Linked DNA regions of Homo sapiens. The protein of the gene in region 2 purifies or fractionates together with the protein of the main gene of each other region. This does not show direct contact. Each region holds a gene or a part of one and is shown on either strand. Other genes may lie near its edges. The genes, in order: PACC1, NUDT9 and LMF1.

Region 1 (3,654 bases), on a different chromosome or scaffold from region 2:
CCAGTGATGGCCTAGTTGACTGGAGTGTGTCCTTCTGCTCCAGATGAGCATCCCGAGCCACTGGGATACAAGAAGAAAAGACTAGCTTTTTTTACTATTTATTTTTATCTCATCCTTTTAACATTTCTATTTTTGAATGTTTAAAGTGTATATAACACTAAGACAATAATAGTATGTTATATCACCTGCAGAGTTATATGTATATGGAGTATATGATCAAAAAGTTTTTACTAATGGGAAATCTGATCAAAAAGCTTTCAGCCCACTGGCCTAGCAGCCAGGAGATACACCTGGCATCTCTCGCTGTGACACCTGTGAGAGCTGAAGAGGACCTTAGGAAAAGGATCAACATGCACACTTGGGACCACTGTGTCTAGTCTCTCTTCCCTGCAAATAATCAATCTGCTAGGCCACTGCCAGCCCCTCAAAGTGCTGCTAGATGCAAGACATCAGACACAGCTGGGCGAGTTACTGACCTCTCTGCAAGCCACAATGATCTCTGCCCCACACATGCATTCCGTGAGGACTGGCCGGTATGTGCGCTGCCTGCAGAAGCACACACAGACTCCCTGGCATAGCATATGAAGCCCTCCATGGGAGTCCCTTCTCATCCTGACCAAGGCCTACTCACCCTTAAGGCCCTGCTCAAAGGAGCCTTCTCTGCAAAGCTTCCCTCCACCTCAGACTCGAATGTGGAAAAGTCACCAGCAGTTTCAAGCAAACCCAGAGCCACCTACCTCCTGCCGGAACTCCACTGCTTCCCGCCCATCCTCCTCCTTGGTCTTTACCAGTGACATCTTGACCCAGGTGCGGAAGCCCCCAGAGAACTTCCAGCTGGAATAGGCACTCTCACAGGCCTGCATGAAGCCTACCCTGTTTGGGCTTGGAGGAAGGAAGGAGAAGGAAGATCCAGGTCAATGCAGGTCTGGCAGCAGGAGTCGAAGCCCCCACTGCAAGCTGGTTTCTTTGCTGGCACAACCAGGATGCTGCCCACTCCCTGCCTCCTCTCCAAATTGTGATTGCCTCAACAGGGCTGTCAGTCACCAGCAAAAGCAAGGCCCATCCCTCTTTTCTCTCCATTTGGTTTCCAAATGGAGGGGTAGTCACTGGCCTCAAGGCAGGAACATGATCCTTGAAGCTCCCAGTGGGAGAAATCTTCCTCCCTCCTCCCATCATTCCTATCGATGGCTACCAAAGCTGTCGGCAATGAAGTTGGCAGAAGCTCCCCAGAACATGGCGCTCACAGCTCCTCAGAGAACTCTGGACTTCAGCAGAGCCTGAGGAAGCCCTCACCAGCCTGTCAGCTCCCATGGAAGGCCCAAAGAGGGGAAGAGGGTTCCTTGGGGAGGTCTCAGCCAGATGGGTCACCTACAGCATCAGCCCCAAGACGGTGCAGATGCAGCAAAATCAAAGCGAACATAAAAACAAGTAAAAACTGCAGCAGCATACCGAGGAAGCTCACGAAAGGAGCGTGGAGTGGGGGTGGGATCCCGGGGAAAGTCTTCCAGGAGGAAGGCAAGATGGCCAGCTTGAAGCAGGGAAGGGAGAGGGAATTCTAGGTGGCAGAAAGGGTGGAAAATGCTAAGGCAGAGGCTCCGAGCTCTGGGGTGGAAGAACAAAGCAGTGGTGGTGTGGAATGGAGGCAGCTCGCTGCATGTCCAGCTGGGGAGCAGCCTCCCTGCCCCTGTAGCTGCCTCCCTGCTTGCTCTGAATGGAGCCTCTGGGCTCAGCAGGACCTGGTAGGAACTGAGTCCCTCTCAACTCAGGCACATGAAGAAAATTCTCCTGCCCTCTAGGCTCCACGGTGTGACCCCAAAGCAGTGTGTGTGGAGCAGACAAGAACTTTCTGATGGTCAGGGGACATTCATCACTGTAAATCGAAGACTAAGAGAGGTGGCAGAGCTTATATCCTCATACCAGAGATGCAGTAGACCCTTGAACAACACAGGTTTGAACTGGCTGGGTCCACTCACGTGCGGATTTTCTTTTGCCTCTGCCACTCCTGAGACAGCAAGACCAAACCTCCTCCTCAGCCTACTCAACATGAAGGCGATGAGGATGAAGGCCTTTACAATGATCACTTCCACTGAATGAATAGTAAGTATATTTTCTCTTCCTTATGATTTCCTTTTTTTTTTTTTTGGAGTCTCGCTCTGTTGCCCAGGCTGGAGTGCAGTGGCGCAATCTCAGCTCACTGCAAACTCTGCCTCCTGGGTTCAATCGGTTCTCCTGCCTCAACCTCTTGAGTAGCTGGGACTACAGGTGCCCGCTACCACGCCTGGCTAATTTTTTGTATTTTTAGTAGAGATGGGGTTTCACCATGTTAGCCAGGATGGTCTCGATCTCCTGACCTCGTGATCCGCCCACCTTGGCCTCCCAAAGTGGTAGGATTACAGGTGTGAGCCACCACACCTGGCCATGATTTTCTTAATAACATTTTTTTTCTCTAGTTTACTTTATCGTAAGAATACAGTCTATGATATATATAACCACGCAATATGTGTTGTTTATGTTATTGGTAAGGCTTCTGTCAACAGTAGGCTGTTAGTAGTTTTGGGGGTCAAAAGTTATACACAAATTTTTGGCTGCATAGGCAGGAGTGGTTAAGTTTGGTAACCCCAAACCCCAAGTTGTTCAAGGACCAACTGTATTTCAGGCAAACATACATTAAGCCCGCACTAAGGGCAAGATGTGGTTCCTGTGCACACTGTGGGGGAAACCAAGGAACCACACAAGAACTTGCTCTCAAAGGGACTTACAAATCAAAGGCAACTTCCCCTACTCCTCAGCAGCCCCAGGCAATGGTGAGACCAAATGATCTCTCTAGAACCAGCCAGCACTATGTGCATGGAGAGCCAGCATGCTCCTCCACACCAGATTTGCTTAACTTTGTGATAAGATGTTGAGTGGACCGGCCAAGCTCATGAGGTCCCTTCCTGGGCCAGTGGGTCATCTGAGAATGCCCCTTCCCTTCCCTGCCCTCACCCCTCCGTCTCTAGCCTTGGGACATACACAGCTGGAATAAGATAAAAAGTAGACAGTAAGCCCACTGTGAACTCTAAAAGCCCACCTTTGCAGGAACTCCTGGAAAGAAGAGAAGAGGAGGTAATCAATGGCGCTGAAGTCCTCACTACTCTTGTTCAGGCGGAACTGGAGGAAGACCAGCTCCCGCTTTTTCACTTCCCGGGGCCCCTGGACAATCAGGGCAGATTTCTGCAGAGAGAAAAAGGACAGAGTCTCAGTCCTGGGAGAGTACACAGAGGCCTCTGGGTCTGAGGGCAGAAGTACTGACTGGAAAGCCCATAGCTCCTTGCCCAGTGGTCTCCAAAGGGACCACTAGCCAACAACAGGACTGGGCTGGGACTCATGCTCATTCCTGGGGAGTTTTCCCCATATGATGCCCAACCAGAGCTGAATGCAGCTCATCCTCTGTCCACTTTTCTCATTGGTTCTTTGAGTTATGGAAGCTCTTAATTTAGCAAGGATGATCACTTTCATCTGTTATGTGTGCCAATCTTTTCTTCCAGTCTGTCATTTTTCTTTTAACTTTGTTTCCAATGTCATTTGTCCTATGGAAACTTTAAATTTAACGTAGTAAAACCTTAAATCCTTTTCTTTACGGCTTTGGGTTTTGCTTGCTGAGGAAAGCCAAAA
Region 2 (3,346 bases):
TTTTCAAACATCTGAAGGAAAGAAAACAATAATGTCTGTCTCCCCTAAAGCTTTTCCTGAGATGCTCCAGCTATAGCCCAACCCTACTTAGGTGGATAGGAGTTCCTATCACAGGGCTTTCCAACAGAGATCCTTAGCCAGAATGAGATAAACATGTCCACTAAGACAAGGCAGTACTACTTTTCTTTCCTTTTCCTTGCTTCCAAAAACCCCCAAAGCACCAACCCCCTCCTTTCCTCTGGGATTTATAACATTAACCATGCTTTTCTCAAAAATCTATTTCAATCTTTAACATTTCTTTCCTAACAAAAAAACACTAACTCACAGAGACCTCCACCTCTGTTCCTGTTTTTATAGAACCAAAATAATTACTTAATAATTATATATTGATCACATATTAAGATATTTTGGATATAATGGATTAAATAATTACAAACCATTTTACTTGTTTCTTTTTATTTTTAATGTGACTACCAAGAAGTTTAAAATTCACACATGGCTAACATTTTCCTTTGTGTTTATTTTGTTGTTAAGTACAGGGGTACATGTGCAGGTTTGTTACATAGGTAAACTTGTGTCATGAGGGTTTGTTGTACAGATAATTTCATCACCAAGGTATTAAGCCTAGTACTCATTAGTTATTTTTCCTGATCCTCTCCCTCCTCCCACCCTCCAATAGACCCCAGAATGTGTTGTTCCCATGTCCATGTGTTCTCACCATTTAGCTCTCACTTATAAGAGAACATGCAGTGTTTGGTTTTCTGTTCTTGCATTAGTTTGCTAAGGATAATGGCCTCCAGCTCCACCCATGTCTTTTCAGAGGACATGATCTTATTCTTTTTTACGGCTGCATAGTATTCCATGGTGTACATATACCACATTGTCTTTATCCAGTCTATCACTGATGAACATTTAGGTTGATTTCATGTCTTCGCTATTGTGAATAGTGCAGCAATGAACATACACGTGAGTATGTGTTTATAATAGAACAATTTATATTCCTTCGGGTATATACCTAGTAATGGGATTACTGGGTCAAATATCTTTAAATATTTGAGGACTCTCTACACTCTCTTCCACAATGGTTGGACCAATTTACACTCCCACTAACAGCGTATAAGCATTCCTTTTTCTCTACAACCTCACTAGCATCTGTAATTTTTTGTCCTGATTTCAATTCTTTTCTGAACATCCATTTTTAACTAATTTACAACATATAGTAGTTTCACTAGAGTGAAATGAACATACTGATTTAAATTACTAACTTCCTGGACTTTTTTTAATTCAGAATTTTTGAAAATGAGAGTATCAGCTCTTGTTCACTGATTTTGATCTCTATTGACTAGTGGCTGAAATTTCCTCTTAAAACTAATGCTTCTAAAGTCAAGAAAACATAGTTTCCATTTTCAAAATTAGCTTCAACAAGATCATGTGAAGCAAAATGTGAAGGAAATAATTTAAAGAAAAATCAGATGAAACATTAAACTATACATCCAGTGGCGGTACTCTGCCTAAAGGAGTTTGATGTGGCAGGAACATCCTTCAGGCCTCAGAAGATGGGGAGCGGGAGGGAAGGCATTGACAAACAAGAACTAGATGAAACAGAAGTTATAGCTGATCAAGAATTTATCTTTATTCTGATTATGATTCTTCAAAGAGCATTAGTTGTTTAAATTTAATTTAAGCCATGCTTAAATCGAATACATACAAAATATGATTACTTATATTCCTTTTGACCAAAGAGCTGAAAATTTTGTGTTCCAGTTCATCTTACTCATGTTATTCTGATGCGAAACACTCTAAATGCAAATTGTTTTGAAAGTAAATAGGCCAAGTGGCCTACCCTGCCCTTTTTATAGTATAAATTCTGTGATACTGCCTTCTTTTCAGTATATGCTCCTCTGTGGGCCTTTGGCTTACACGGAGACCATCAGCTACAACGCATGGCAGTCAGCTTCAGAGTCCTCGCTCCAGTGTGCATCTCGTTTCTCAGCCACAAGTTTGATGAATTGAGAGTGACTGGCATAAAGCTTCAGTTTATCATTGATGTCCACCCATTTCACTTTTCCAGCATCATCTCCAGCTTCTAGCATAAGATTATCCATTATCTCACCTGGTTGCCAAAGAAAAACCATCACCAAGAAAAACTCATTTCTGTTTTAGCATATCTATGTCGTCAAGTATTCTTATTTAAAATAATCTTATATCATCATTGTACTAGCCGGCCAAGTGAATTAAAAACTAGACCATTCCATCCCTGGTCAGCAGAATGAATAAAAGAAAAAAAACTAGAGTATTCCAAAATGTCCAAATTTTAACCAAGTCCCTAAATTTTAGATAAACACAAAGAGTTTTCTCTAAAAAGATTATCCTTAAAAACGAGATTATATTACATGAATATGAAACCTTACATCAAAATCAGTCCAAGAGGGATGAGAGATTTAAATGTAAAAAAATAAACAAAGCTGAGGCGGGTAGATCACCTGAGGTCAGGAGTTCGAGACCAGCCTGGCCAACATGGTGAAACCCCATCTCTACTAAAAATACAAAAATTAGCCAGGAGTGGTGGCACATGCCTGCAGTCCCAGCTTACTTGGGAGGCTGAGGCAAGAGAATTGTCTGAATCCATGAGGTGGAGGTTGCAGTGAGCCAAGATCACACCACTGCACTCCAGCCTGGCAACAGGGTGAGACTCCACCTCAAAAAAAAAAAAAAAAAATTTAAATTATCAAAAAAATAAAAAATAAGTGCTCCCAATCACTGCTGGGAATATAAATGGAATATTTCTGTAGGAAATTTGGCAATGTTTATCAAGAGCTTTTAAAAAGTAAGTTTTCTTTGACAAGCACTCATTCTGTAAATATCAGAGTGCATCTTGTGTGCCAGACTGTACTAGGCACTGAAGATACAATAAGCAATCCAGTAATTCCTCTTTGAAGAATTTATTCTGATGAAATAGAGACAAGCCTATTAAAGTATTCAAGGCAACATTACTTAAATATTTTATTTTATTTTATTTATTTTTAGATGGAGTCTCGCTGTTGTTGACCAGGCTGAAGTGCAGTGGCACAATCACGGCTCACTGCAACCTCCGCGTCCTGAGTACAAGCGATTCTCCTGCCTCAGCCCCCCGAGTACCTGGGATTACAGGCATCTGCCACCACGCCCAGCTAATTTTTTTGTATTCTTAGTAGAGACCACACTGCCATACCAAAAACTGGAGAGACAGGCAAATACAGAGAATCACAACTGACCAGGGAGAGAAGCCTACCGCTGGAGTCAGCACCTGGTAGGAACACTTAAAGGGTAACTAACTGCTGAAAGCTGACCTTTGGACTAGCTTGAA
Region 3 (3,005 bases), on a different chromosome or scaffold from region 2:
CAGTCTTGGCTGCCCGGGAGGTTTTCCAAAGGCCCGACCCCACTCCTCTTGGAGCTGCTGATCCCTCTCTCCCATCAGGCGCCTCAGGGACCCTCCTCCACCCAGAGGGTCTCTGTCTTCCCGGTTTTCCTGGCGTAATTCAGACTTGGGGAGAGAAGAATCATCATCCATCACACACCCAGACCCAAAGAGACTCAAAGCCAGGAGGAGCCGGGTGGACCCAGAGGCCCTCACCCTGCCAGCCTAAGGGGCATGGCCCAAGGTCTCCACCCCCAGCCCCCAGAGCACAGCTGTGTGCAGGTCACCAGAAGCCCCAAATAATGACAGCAGCCCAGACAGTCGCTACCGGGCCCTGGTGCAGTGTGAAGCCTCTGGCACCTGCCTGGGCTCATTCCAGGGGCCATGAGAGGGTCCTGTTATGGCTGCACCATCACACCCACCGGGCAGCTGGGGCCCAGCTCTGCCATGGATCCCAGCCAGGCAGCAGCCGCCCTGTGGGCTGAGAAGCTTCCGCTCCTGCTGCACAACTGCGAAGGGGCCTGGAGGGCCGGGAGCTTGTGACGGTGACAATTCCTCCTGGCGCCTCCTCCTCCGGGGCAGCCGAGCAACCCTGGACATGAGGGGGCTTCGTCCCACCCCCAGGAGAAAATGCCCAGTCCTCCGAGAGTCCAGTGAGGGCTTGCCAGCCAGGGACCAAGACCCAGTATGGCCTAAACCAGGCCTGGTCACCAGGGGTCAGGCGGGACCTTATACAGGGCTCAGCAGAGAGACCTGCCCGCTACCCTGCTCCAGGGGAGATGGGGGTGGGGGCCTTCATCCCACTCGGGCATGACAGAGGAGAGCAGCCAGCCAGCATCTGCACGTCTCAGGCAGGGAAGGGCCTGAAGCCCTGGGAAGCAGAGGCTCCGCCCTCAGGAAACAGGTCCCGGCCTGGCTCCCTCACAGCCTCGGACTGCCCCGTGGACCGAAACCCCCAGGCACCTTGCGCCAGGACTGGCCTGATGGTGGAGACGCCACACCATGAGCAGTAGGTTCCTCTCCCCACCTTCCCAGGCGGGGGACACTTGGGGCTCAAACTGGGGCCTTGTGAACGGTCTCAGGCTTGCTCAGTGCCACCCGTGAAGCTCCTGGCCTTCCCCGGGCCGGTCCCTCTGCCAAGTGGGCCCTGCTGGGTCTCCCCTCCCGGAGCTGCCCCCCGTCCGCCCTTCCCCCTTGCTGCGCTGTTCACTGCTGAGGGTGCCGACTGGAACAGTTGCCCTGCCCGGGGTCTGCTGGGGGTCTACCTGTGCTCAGGGTGGGGGCTCCTCATGCAGCCCCTCTGTCCGTGGGGGACCCTGTGAGCAGCTGCAGCTCAGCAGCAGGCTGAGGAGCCGGGTCGGGGGCCGGGAGTCCCAGCAGGCCCTGGGCTGACATGTGCCCCCTTGCAGGTGGGTCCGAGGAGAGCACTACAGGTACAAGTTCAGCCGTCCTGGGGGCAGGCACGCCGCCGAGGGCAAGTGGTGGGTGCGGAAGAGGATCGGAGCCTACTTCCCTCCGCTCAGCCTGGAGGAGCTGAGGCCCTACTTCAGGGACCGTGGGTGGCCTCTGCCCGGGCCCCTCTAGACGTGCACCAGAAATAAAGGCGAAGACCCAGCCCCTCGGCGGCTCAGCAACGTTTGCCCTTCCCTGCGCCCAGCCCAAGCTGGGCATCGCCAAGAGAGACGTGGAGAGGAGAGCGGTGGGACCCAGCCCCCAGCACGGGGGTCCAGGGTGGGGTCTGTTGTCACATACTGTGGCGGCTCCCAGGCCCTGCCCACCTGGGGCCCCACATCCAGGCCAACCCTTGTCCCAGGCGCCAGGGGCTCTGATCTCCCATCCATCCCACCCTCCTCCCAGAGGCCCAGCCTGGGGCTGTGCCGCCCACAGGAGTTGAGACAATGGCCATCCTGACACCTTCCTCCACTACAGCCCTGACCATAGACCCAGCCAGGTAGCTCTTGGGGTCTCTAGCGTCCCAGGGCCTGGTTTCTGTTCCCTCTTCAATGGTGTGTTCCCAGCCAGGTCCTGACCCTCAGAGCCAAGTCCCTGTCACGTCTGGGGCAGCCAAACCCTCGCCCCACAGGGACCTGGACACGCCCGGCCAGGATGTGGGGTTGGATGGGCCATTTTCTGTCCTATCCCTCATCTCCACCCCCGCCACAGCCTACACGCATCCCACACATGCAGGCACACACAGCCTGTGCACACATGTGTTCTTGGCCCGGTTTCATCCCCCCATGACTGGTGTCTGTGAGGTGCAGATGGACACAGCGCACACCCAGACCCTCCACCAGGCTGTGACCTCGCTGCCTCTGAGGCCTTGACAAGGCCCCTCAATCGGAGGACAGCCGGCCGTGCACACTTTCATCATCGTCGGACAAACAGCGTCTACTGCACATTTTTCTTATTCCTATTCTTGAGCCATAGCTATGGCATATTCTTCTACTATTCCTATTATACCACTTACCAGCTTACTCGAAAACACACTGTTTAAATGAAGAAGTTCTTGTACCTCCCTCCCCTTGGCGGTGGCCGTGCCCCCAGCCCACACTCTGATGCTGGGGCAGCGGGTGACCGAGCGGGAGCTTGATGGAGAGGTGAATGGGTGGTGCTTTGCCTGGCGACCCTTCCAGTGTCTGCTGCGGCAATACTTGGAGTAAATGGGAATGAGCAGGGGTGCCAGCCCTGCCGGAAGGAGGCAAAGCTCTGGGGCAACGTCCCCCACCCAGGACGCTGTGAGGCTGGGTCCTGGGAGAAGTCAGAAGTGGGCCCCACCATAGGACAGAGGCCCTCCCCTCTCCCCCAGCCTGGGGGGGCGGTTCCCCCACCCACCCCTTCCCCCTGCCTCCATCCACGGCACCTGGAGCCATGATGCCCACGGCTGAGCCACTGTGGGGGGCCCCAGTGGGGACAACACGGTGGTTCAGGCCGAGGAGGGCGGCTGCGGTAGGCACAGTGTGGGTCTGTGTGGAGCCCCCCCTCGGCCT

The links.
Region 1: the proteins of NUDT9 (region 2) and PACC1 purify together in Homo sapiens (co-immunoprecipitation; one large-scale study listed by IntAct). This does not show direct contact.
Region 3: the proteins of NUDT9 (region 2) and LMF1 purify together in Homo sapiens (affinity purification with mass spectrometry; one large-scale study listed by BioGRID and IntAct). This does not show direct contact.

What each region holds. Positions count from the first base shown.
Region 1 is NC_000001.11:212,376,825-212,380,478, forward strand, and holds part of PACC1 (proton-activated chloride channel), read right to left. Parts: intron 3,214-3,654; coding exon 3,071-3,213; intron 883-3,070; coding exon 738-882; intron 61-737; exon of another isoform or gene 1-60. UniProt on the Homo sapiens protein: Chloride channel gated by pH that facilitates the entry of chloride ions into cells upon exposure to extracellular acidic pH. Involved in acidosis-induced cell death by mediating chloride influx and subsequent cell swelling.
Region 2 is NC_000004.12:87,456,610-87,459,955, reverse strand, and holds the end of NUDT9 (ADP-ribose pyrophosphatase, mitochondrial isoform a precursor), read right to left. Parts: intron 2,114-3,346; coding exon 1,935-2,113; 3' UTR 501-1,934; downstream 1-500.
Region 3 is NC_000016.10:853,129-856,133, reverse strand, and holds the end of LMF1 (lipase maturation factor 1), read left to right. Parts: intron 1-869; exon of another isoform or gene 870-1,027; intron 1,028-1,427; coding exon 1,428-1,602; coding exon of another isoform or gene 1,603-1,619; 3' UTR 1,620-2,500; downstream 2,501-3,005. UniProt on the Homo sapiens protein: Involved in the maturation of specific proteins in the endoplasmic reticulum. Required for maturation and transport of active lipoprotein lipase (LPL) through the secretory pathway. Each LMF1 molecule chaperones 50 or more molecules of LPL.